2 separate regions of the Homo sapiens genome follow, and region 1 is linked to region 2. Evidence: fine-mapped expression QTL. A gene starts in region 2. The other region holds a variant in brackets. All regions are shown on one strand. Distances are from middle to middle.

Region 1 (5,242 bases), 21 kb before region 2:
GCTGTCAAACTTTTCCTGACTAGCTGTACTATTGTGCATTCCACAAGGCATGTATGACAGTTCAAAGATAAAGTTTTGATAATACTTGTTGGCATTAAGTCAGGGCCTCCCTAAGTATGGATCTTTTTTTGTTGCTCTCTTCTCCTCTCTTGTCTCTTAATCAGGAAGTTTTACAGTGGTCGAGGAACATTATTCAAACAAAAAAAAAGTACAAGTTTAAAAATAACTGAATAACGAGTCTTCTACCACCATGCCAAGGGCAGAGTTCTGCTTAAAGATGATTTGGAGAATGTGCTTGGGCTTGAGGTCCACTTTGAATTTCTTAGACTCTTTTTTTTTTGGTCCTAGTTCAGATCTTAGAACCTCCAAACCCTTGATGTATATGCTGGCACAAAAAGAAAGATATTGGGATGAAGGAGGAAAGAAAGAGGGAGAGAAAGAGAGAAGGAAAGTAGAAAAGAAGGGTTGAAATAATTGGGTGTGTAGTTGTCAGGCAAAATACAGGATAGCTAGTTAAATTTGAACATCAGATAAACAATACATACATTTTCACTGTGACGTATATCTCAAATATTGCACAGGGCATACTTACACGAGTAATTATTTATTCTTTATCTGATGTTAAAATTTAACTAGCAATTCTGTATTTTTATTTGCAAAAATTGGCAACTCTAGTTGCATTCCAGAAGGATGTTAAGTCTGTTTATCTATTCAGTTACATGGAATAAAAGAAATGGATTACCATCTCCCTTCTTTCCAGTGGCAGGTGCTGCCTGGTCCAAGACAGGACGGCAAGAGAATCCATAGGTCATGAAAACTTTCTTTTAAAGTACAGCCAGACTGCCCATTAGCAAGTTATAGTGTCATGTAAGTCTCATGCATGGACCAATTTTGTTAGCAACTTTTAGTGGAGGAACTAATAAAGAAGGTGGTTCAAGGTAGAGGAATCAGAAGAATCACTTTCTTATCAGATGATATGTCTTTCTGGGTGCCTCTTTTACACCTCATTTTCTTTCCTTTATTAATACAGAAAAGTTAGAAAGATGAACTCAAATCTTTCTTCTGTCCTCTAGCAAAGATTCTGGTAAGGAAGCATCAAGTCTGTGGAATAGAGAAGAGAACTTTTATTGATTGATTGACTTATTGCTTAAGTGTTGTGTAGAGATGGTCTATTGACAGATGCAACCTGGCATTTTGATAATATTAGGTGGTAGTAAGTAGGTGCCTAGAGACCTTTTGCAGCTTGTACATATGTTAAGGTTTTCCTCCTACCTATGGAAGAGAGCTGGCCCATGACTCAACAGCTCTGGACTTCCCCGACCCTGGCCATGCACCTGGCTAGTGAAGTGAACAGCTCTGTTGGCTGGACTGCCACCCCACTTTCCTGGGTCCTTATTCACTTTTGTATAGAGCAATGCCTGGCCACAGAGCTAGCAACTTCCCAACTGATAGAAACAGTTCAGTGCTTAGGCTTCATTAACAGATGTAGAGCACCCAGGAAAGAGGGCAGTGACAAACTTGCTTTATTTGTGCTGCAGAATATCCAGAGTATTGTGTTTAATTTGGGGACTATATTATACAGGTGGCACTTAACATGTTGGAAAAATGTAATGAGTTCAATAAGCTGCTGAAGTGAGAAACAGGTTGAGGAATTACATATGGTTGGTTTGAAAAAGGAGGACTCATAATCACACAAAGACTGTGTGTGATTTTTGTCTTCAGGTATCTTTCATGCAGGATGAAGTTTAGATTTATTCTGTATTACCCTACAATGGAGATTCTTAACTTTTGTGAATATGATAAATGCTTTTGACATTTGATGGAGAAAAATGTATACATTCACGATATGCATACACATTAGAAATTTTTAGTAACCATATGCATTCATTTTAGGAAACCCTCAGATGTACTGTCTTCCTAGAGGATGAATACAGAAAGATCACAGCAGCAGATTTCAGTTTAGTAATAAAAGAACTTTCTAGTGATTTGAGCTTTCTGGAGCTGAAATAGGCTGCTTCAGGAGTTAATAAGCTCCCTATCCCTGGGCAGTTTTAAGCAGAGGCCGGGTGGTCCCTTGATGGTTATATTGAAGAGGACTCTTATAAATATGGTGGAGTTTTGGCCAGATTCTAATTCCTTTAAAGCCTTGAGAATCAATTAGATTCTATGAGTTTTATAGTAAAAGCCTCATATAACATGATTGGTCTATAAGGCATATGGTAATCCTGTTCATAGACATTGGCATTCATGTATGGCTTTATGGAGTATTTGATTTATTTTAGGACTTCTGCTTGATTTCCTCTTGGTCTGCCTCATAATTTTCATTAGCTCCATTTGGAGATTTTTTTGGGG[G/A]TTTGGCTCTATGGCCCAGTACCCATATTCATTGCAGTAATAAAGTTTTAATACTGAAATATAAAGTCATGTGTTAGTTATCAAATTTCCTTAGCTCATTAGCTCCTGAAGAATAGAAACCAAAGTTTTTTAGGATGATCTTGTAGAGAGATCAGCTTGCTGGGGTTACCAAGGTCATTCTGTGACTCCCTGCCATCCTTTGCATAACCATAATTTCAAGAACCTTTTAACTCAATCACTGTAATTACTTTACATGTTTTGTTGGAGAGAGAGACATAGAGAAAGAACAGAGGTGTTCTGTGATTTTGGGTCATTTTTAGCCATAGCTTCTTAATACAGAATGACTGCATTGCTGAACCAAATGAACAGATTTAGTCTTCAGTTTCCAATCCTTGAGATTTCTCCTGACCCTAGAAGCCAAAGTATTGCTTAATGATAATTATGTTTCTTCGGGTTTCCAGATCAATTTGGCATAGAACATATCTACTTTGTTGTCCAGACAAGGCACAGAGAATGAATGAATAAGATCATCTTCCAGAAGGTAGAACCTCGTTAAAAATAGGAACTGAGAAATATATTGCCGTGGAAGCATTTGTTGTTATGTTATTAACAGGGACTCAGATGTGTGAGATGTAGGTTTAATTTATATTTAAAATATACTGATGAAATATATTGCTAATCTTTTCATTCTTATGAACTGGGGGTTACTTGAGTGATTTCCAAGAGTAGATTCTCCCACAGGAAAGCAGCCTACTTCCCCAAATGCCAGCAATTTTGGGGCATTATCAAAAAGAGTATTAGAGTCAGGAGAACAATGTGTGGAATTTTGGAACCAGAAGAATAGCTAGAGCAGGTCCAGAAAAGGGCACCTGAACTGAATCAAGGGAATGTGAGTGCTGCCATCTGAGGACAATCTAAAAATATGTGCTCTCATCTGTCTGGCAATATGCAGGCGAAAATGAAAAATGATTGACGCCTGTCAAATTATGAAAGTTATGTATAATTGGAACCAGACTTAAATGCAAATGAACTAACATATGTGAATGGGATTTAAATAGTTCCTGGCACATAGTAGGTGTTCAATAAATGTTAATTCCTTTCTTATGCAAGCTTCTTTTGAAGTTTAAAAGAGGAAATCTTAACACAAATAAAAAATATGTAATTTGCTGCAGGTAGTAAACATATGAAATTTGATACTGAAGGAGGTGATTTTGATGGAAAATGTGAAACTAGCTTTAAAATGGAATTGGATACATCCAGAGATGATAAATACATAATGATTAGTTAAGGGAAATGAGTCTTTGGAGGCTGAGAGGACAACTTCTAACTTCAAAAAATAAGTTTGTTGTTTTTCTCAATATAAAAGACACATTTGTTAAATAGTTTTTTAAAAAAAATAGTTGAACAAAACAAAAAACCACTTAGGCTATCACCATTCAGAAATACCACTCTTAACATTTTGTATGTATAGTTGCAGTATCTTTCCATGTAAGTGAAGATATTTTATCAGAGGTACACAAATCTTGATAAACTTTATTTTACTTGATGAAGTGGACATTTATTTTTTCCATGTCACTAAATATTATTCACAACACAATTTTATGTGATTAATATTCTTTAGTATGAAGAATGTCATATGGTTTATGTAATCAATTGTCTACAATTGGACCTTGGTAATTTCCCCAAATTTTGCTATTAGAAGCAAAACTTGTGTATCTGTCTTTGTGTAGTTTTAAAAATATTTTATTAGGTTGAATCCATAGAAATGAAATTGCTTGATCAAGGAGCATGAACATTTTTGAAGGTTTTAATAGGTATTGCCAAGTACTCTCAAGAAATGTTATAATAGCAATGTATACTGCCATCTCGGTTTATTAAAGTATTCATTTCCCCAAATCCTTTTCAAACCTGGACACATAAAAAGCCGATTTGCCAAGTTTATGTTTAAAATATGTTATAATTTTAACTTAACATTCATTACTAGTAATTAATGTGAGATTAAATATCAAATATTTTCAAATGTTATTATGTTTGGGATAAGGGCATTGCCATTTTATATACTTTAATGTTATATTGATGTGCCTGTCTTTTTCTTATTAATTTGCAAAAATTTCTAAATGTTGCAGTGTAGTTGATTTTTAAAATGCTTTTTCTGTGTTTGAGAATTCTCCTTCATTTGAGTTCTGGCCAGCTTTCTTACTACAGAAACCAACAAGATAGGATGCTTTTTCCTAAGGTTCTTCACAGTCGTGGTGTTGCATGTGATCTATTTCAACAAATCATCTCCATCCATCTGGGACTTCTGAATTTGGAGCTAGGGATGCAGAGAAGCATGGAAAGATGGGAATTTATTCTGGTAATGTGGCAGGTCAAGCAGTGTCAGCAGGAGTACCTAATGTTCCATGCTTAGCCTCATTGGTTGTGGTGTCCTCAGCAGATGGGATCTGTGATATAATTTTGATTGTGATTCTGGCTGCCTAGCCTCTCATTTTTAATATCATTATTTTAAAAGTCAGGTTTACTAGGGTGTTTACACATAGTAATATTCAAGAATATTGTTTGATGAGTTTTGACAAATGTATAACATTTTATAATCAAGATATAGACCATTTGCTTATTTATTGGCTATTTACCGTGAGCCAGGCATGAAATGACTCACTTATGTTCTTTCATTTAAAACACATCACAACTTCTTGTTGTTGGTTCTATTGTTCACATTTCACCAAACGTATATTCTATAACTTGCCCCAAATAACACTCTGGTTGGTGGCTGAGCCAAGATGTAAACCTACAGTCATTTCTCCTGTTCTGCACTGCTTCAACAAATCAAGGCGTTGTCATTTGTTAAAATGCTCATTACCTAGATATCCATTTGGAAGCATGATTTTTC
Region 2 (5,242 bases):
TTCTTCTCTCTTTTTTTCTTTATTAGTCTTGCTAGTGGTCTATCAATTCTGTTGATCCTTTCAAAAAAGCAGCTCCTGGATTCATTAATTTTTTGAAGGGTTTTTTGTGTCTCTATTTCCTTCAGTTCGGCTCTGATTTTAGTTATTTCTTGCCTTCTGCTAGCTTTTGAATGTGTTTGCTCTTGCTTTTCTAGTTCTTTTAATTGTGATGTTAGGGTGTCAATTTTGGATCTTTCCTGCTTTCTCTTGTGGGCATTTAGTGCTATAAATTTCCGTCTACACACTGCTTTGAATGTGTCCCAGAGATTCTGGTATGTTGTGTCTTTGTTCTCGTTGGTTTCAAAGAACATCTTTATTTCTGCCTTCATTTCGTTATGTACCCAGTAGTCATTCAGGAGCAGGTTGTTCAGTTTCCATGTAGTTGAGCGGTTTTGAGTGAGATTCTTAATGCTGAGTTCTAGTTTGATTGCACTGTGGTCTGAGAGATAGTTTGTTATAATCTCTGTTCTTTTACATTTGCTGAGGAGAGCTTTACTTCCAAGTATGTGGTCAATTTTGGAATAGGTGTGGTGTGGTGCTGAAAAAAATGTATATTCTGTTGATTTGGGGTGGAGAGTTCTGTAGATGTCTATTAGGTCTGCTTGGTGCAGAGCTGAGTTCAAGTCCTGGGTATCCTTGTTGACTTTCTGTCTCGTTGATCTGTCTAATGTTGACAGTGGGGTGTTAAAGTCTCCCATTATTAATGTGTGGGAGTCTAAGTCTCTTTGTAGGTCACTAAGCACTTGCTTTATGAATCTGGGTGCTCCTGTATTGGGTGCATATATATTCAGGATAGTTAGCTCTTCTTGTGGAATTGATCCCTTTACCATTATGTAATGGCCTTCTTTGTCTCTTTTGATCTTTGTTGGTTTAAAGTCTGTTTTATCAGAGACTAGGATTGCAACCCCTGCCTTTTTTTGTTTTCCATTTGCTTGGTAGATCTTCCTCCATCCTTTTATTTTGAGCCTATGTGTGTCTCTGCACGTGAGATGGGTTTCCTGAATACAGCACACTGATGGGTCTTGACTCTTTATCCAATTTGCCAGTCTGTGTCTTTTAATTGGAGCATTTAGTCCATTTACATTTAAAGTTAATATTGTTATGTGTGAATTTGATCCTGTCATTATGATGTTAGCTGGTTATTTTGCACGTTAGTTGATGCAGTTTCTTCCTAGTCTTGATGGTCTTTACATTTTGGCATGATTTTGCAGTGGCTGGTACCGGTTGTTCCTTTCCATGTTTAGCGCTTCCTTCAGGAGCTCTTTTAGGGCAGGCCTGCTGGTGACAAAATCTCTCAGCATTTGCTTGTCTGTAAAGTATTTTATTTCTCCTTCACTTATGAAGCTTAGTTTGGCTGGATATGAAATTCTGGGTTGAAAATTCTTTTCTTTAAGAATGTTGAATATTGGCCCCCACTCTCTTCTGGCTTGTAGGGTTTCTGCCGAGACATTCACTGTTAGTCTGATGGGCTTCCCTTTGAGGGTAACCCGACCTTTCTCTCTGGCTGCCCTTAACATTTTTTCCTTCATTTCAACTTTGGTGAATCTGACAATGTGTCTTGGAGTTGCTCTTCTCGAGGAGTATCTTTGTGGCGTTCTCTGTATTTCCTGAATCTGAACGTTGGCCTGCCTTGCTAGATAGGGGAAGTTCTCCTGGATAATATCCTGCAGAGTGTTTTCCAACTTGGTTCCATTCTCCCCATCACTTTCAGGTACACCAATCAGACGTAGATTTGGTCTTTTCACATAGTCCCATATTTCTTGGAGGCTTTGCTCATTTCTTTTTATTCTTTTTTCTCTAAACTTCCCTTCTCGCTTCATTTCATTCATTTCATCTTCCATTGCTGATACCCTTTCTTCCAGTTGATCGCATCAGCTCCTGAGGCTTCTGCATTCTTCACGTAGATCTCGAGCCTTGGTTTTCAGCTCCATCAGCTCCTTTAAGCACTTCTCTGTATTGGTTATTCTAGTTATACATTCTTCTAAATTTTTTTCAAAGTTTTCAAGTTCTTTGCCTTTGGTTTGAATGTCCTCCCGTAGCTCAGAGTAATTTGATCGTCTGAAGCCTTCTTCTCTCAGCTCATCAAAGTCATTCTCCATCCGGCTTTGTTCCGTTGCTGGTGAGGAACTGCGTTCCTTTGGAGGAGGAGAGGTGCTCTGCGTTTTAGAGTTTCCAGTTTTTCTGTTCTGTTTTTTCCCCATCTTTGTGGTTTTATCTACTTTTGGTCTTTGATGATGGTGATGTACAGATGGGTTTTTGGTGCGGATGTCCTTTCTGTTTGTTAGTTTTCCTTCTAACAGACAGGACCCTCAGCTGCAGGTCTGTTGGAATACCCTGCCGTGTGAGGTGTCAGTGTGCCCCTGCTGGGGGGTGCCTCCCAGTTAGGCTGCTCGGGGGTCAGGGGTCAGGGACCCACTTGAGGAGGCAGTCTGCCCGTTCTCAGATCTCCAGCTGCGTGCTGGGAGAACCACTGCTCTCTTCAAAGCTGTCAGACAGGGACATTTAAGTCTGCAGAGGTTACTGCTGTCTTTTTGTTTGTCTGTGCCCTGCCCCCAGAGGTGGAGCCTACAGAGGCAGGCAGGCCTCCGTGAGCTGTGGTGGGCTCCACCCAGTTCGAGCTTCCCGGCTGCTTTGTTTACCTAAGCAAGCCTGGGCAACGGCGGGCGCCCCTCCCCCAGCCTCGCTGCCGCCTTGCAGTTTGATCTCAGACTGCTGTGCTAGCAATCAGCGAGACTCCCTGTGAGTAGGACCCTCCGAGCCAGGTGCGGCTTATAATCTCGTGGTGCGCCGTTTTTTAAGCCGGTCGGAAAAGCGCAGTATTCGGGTGGGAGTGACCCGATTTTCCAGGTGCGTCCTTTACCCCTTTCTTTGACTCGGAAAGGGAACTCCCTGACCACTTGCGCTTCCCAAGTGAGGCAATGCCTCGCCCTGCTTCGGCTTGCACATGGTGCGCGCACCCACTGACCTGCGCCCACTGTCTGGCACTGCCTAGTGAGATGAACCCGGTACCTCAGATGGAAATGCAGAAATCACCCGTCTTCTGCGTCGCTCACGCTGGGAGCTGTAGACTGGAGCTGTTCCTATTCGGCCATCTTGGCTCCTCCTCAACCAGTTTTTAATGGGGTTGTTTTTTCTTGGAAATTGTTAAAGTTCCTTGTAGATGCTGAACATTAGCCCTTTGTAGGATGCATAGGTTGCAAAAATTTTTCTCCCATTCTGTAGTTGTCTGTTTAGTCTGTTGATTGTTTCTTTTGATGTGCAGAAGCTCTTTAATTAGATCCCATTTGTCAATTTTTGCTTTTGTTGCAATTGCTTTTGGTGTCTTTGTCATGAAATCTTTGCCCATGCCTATGTCCTGAATGATATTGTCTAGGTTGTCTTCTGGGTTTTTATAGTTTTGGGTTTTGTAATTAAGCCTTTAATCCATCTTGAGTAAATTTTTGTATAATGTGTAAGGAAGGGGTCCAGTTTTAAACTTTGGCATATGGCTAGCCGGTTATCCCAGCATTATTTATTGAATGGAAAATCTTTTCCCCATTCAATAAATTTATCCATTGCTTGTTTTTGTCAGATTTGTCAAAGATTAGATAGTGGCAGGTATACAGTCTTATTTCTGGGTTCTCTATTCTGTTCCATTGGTCTGTGTGTCTGTTTTTGTACTGGTACCATGCTATTTTGATTACTGTAGCCCTGTAGTATAGTTTGAGGTAGGGTAACGTGATGCCTCCAGCTTTGTTCTTTTTGCTTAGGATTGAATTGGCTATTTGGGGTCTATTTTGCAAGCCCAAGAGTTCTTAACAGAAAAGTAATTATATACAGAAATGATCAACCATTAGGAAATTATGCATTGTTGATGGGCACAAGGTTTATGACAGGCAGAAATTTGCAAATGAACTAAGTAGAGTTTTACATTACTTTTATTTTATTTTATTGAGAAGTTAAAAAATTATCTGCAGAAAACAAAATCAATCAAATTCCTCTGTTCATGGTATGCTATCCTCTTTTCTCTTTGTTCACCTTTTATCTTCTTGTTATTTTCAAGCCACCCCTGACCACTCAACTGCATTTGGATATATGTATTTTTTCAGATTACACATATATATGTATATATATGGAATCTGAAAAATATAAAATATTGTTTTATATTTGTATGCTTTATATTTATATAAGTGATAGCGTATTTTAATCTCATTCATTTTTTGATTTTCTTATTCTTCACTATGTTTTCTTGATTTATGCCTATTTTCCTATGTGTCATTTTGCTCTGATCATAGTATTCCATAGTACACATTTATTCTACTTTATTTCCCTAGCAAAGTGCACCTAAATTGCTTCCAACTTCCTTCTATCACAAATAATGCTGTGATAAACATAATGACACACAACTCCTTTGGTATCTCTGCACATATTTCTCTGGACATATACTGAGGAGAAAGATTGCTGTGTCTTAGGCGATGCACATTCCATACCACAGTTCACACTGCCAGACTAAAAGGGCTCTGTTGCTCTTCATGCCTGCCACGATGCACAAGATTCCTATTTCTCCATAATCTCACAAACATTTGGTGATATTTCTAGTTTTTGTCAAAGTGATGTATATAAAGTGGTGCCTCATGTTTTAATTTGCATCCACATAAAAATCAGTGTGGTTGATCATCTCTTTACATAATAGTTTTTCCATTGGATACTCATGGGTTTTGATCTTTTACTTGTTGGCATATGTCCCTCATATCTTATAAATATTAAATGGTTGCCAATTTTTGATATGTTTATAAAATAAAATAGAAATTAAAGAAGAGAGAGAGAATATGGAAGAATTCTTCTTCTTCTTCTTTTTTTGGTCACCCAGGCTGGAGTGTAGTAGTGCCATCTGGGCTTACTGCAACCTCAGCCTCAGAGGTTCGAACAATTCTATGCCTCAGCCACCTGCGTAGCTGGCATTACAGATGCATGACACCACGTCTGGCTAATTTTTGTATTTTTAGTAGAGATGGGGTGTCGCCGTGTTGGCCAGGCTGGTCTCAAACTCCTGACCTCAGGTGATCTGCCTGCTCCCAAAGTGTTGGGATTACAGGCATGTGCCACCAACCTCTGCCAAATACGGAAAATTCTAAAAGTAACTGAATTCAGAATTCATTTGGAGTTTATATGGATTTTATCATGTTATTCTTTCCACTTGACTGTGTGTTTGAAAAAGCCTATA

What was found.
Region 1: its variant is fine-mapped to the expression of LINC01876 in blood mononuclear cells (TOPMed, PIP above 0.99). The same link has a PIP of 0.9 or more in ovary, tibial artery, tibial nerve and whole blood.

The regions. Positions count from the first base shown.
Region 1 is chr2:156,273,355-156,278,596 of GRCh38, reverse strand. No RefSeq gene overlaps it. Among named protein-coding and RNA genes, the nearest start is that of LINC01876, 21 kb to the right of the region's middle. The variant G/A (reference allele first, on the strand shown) is at 2,353.
Region 2 is chr2:156,252,422-156,257,663 of GRCh38, reverse strand. It overlaps LINC01876 (long intergenic non-protein coding RNA 1876), which reads left to right and starts at 2,733. Exons shown (of 4, transcript NR_110250.2): 1 at 2,733-2,886.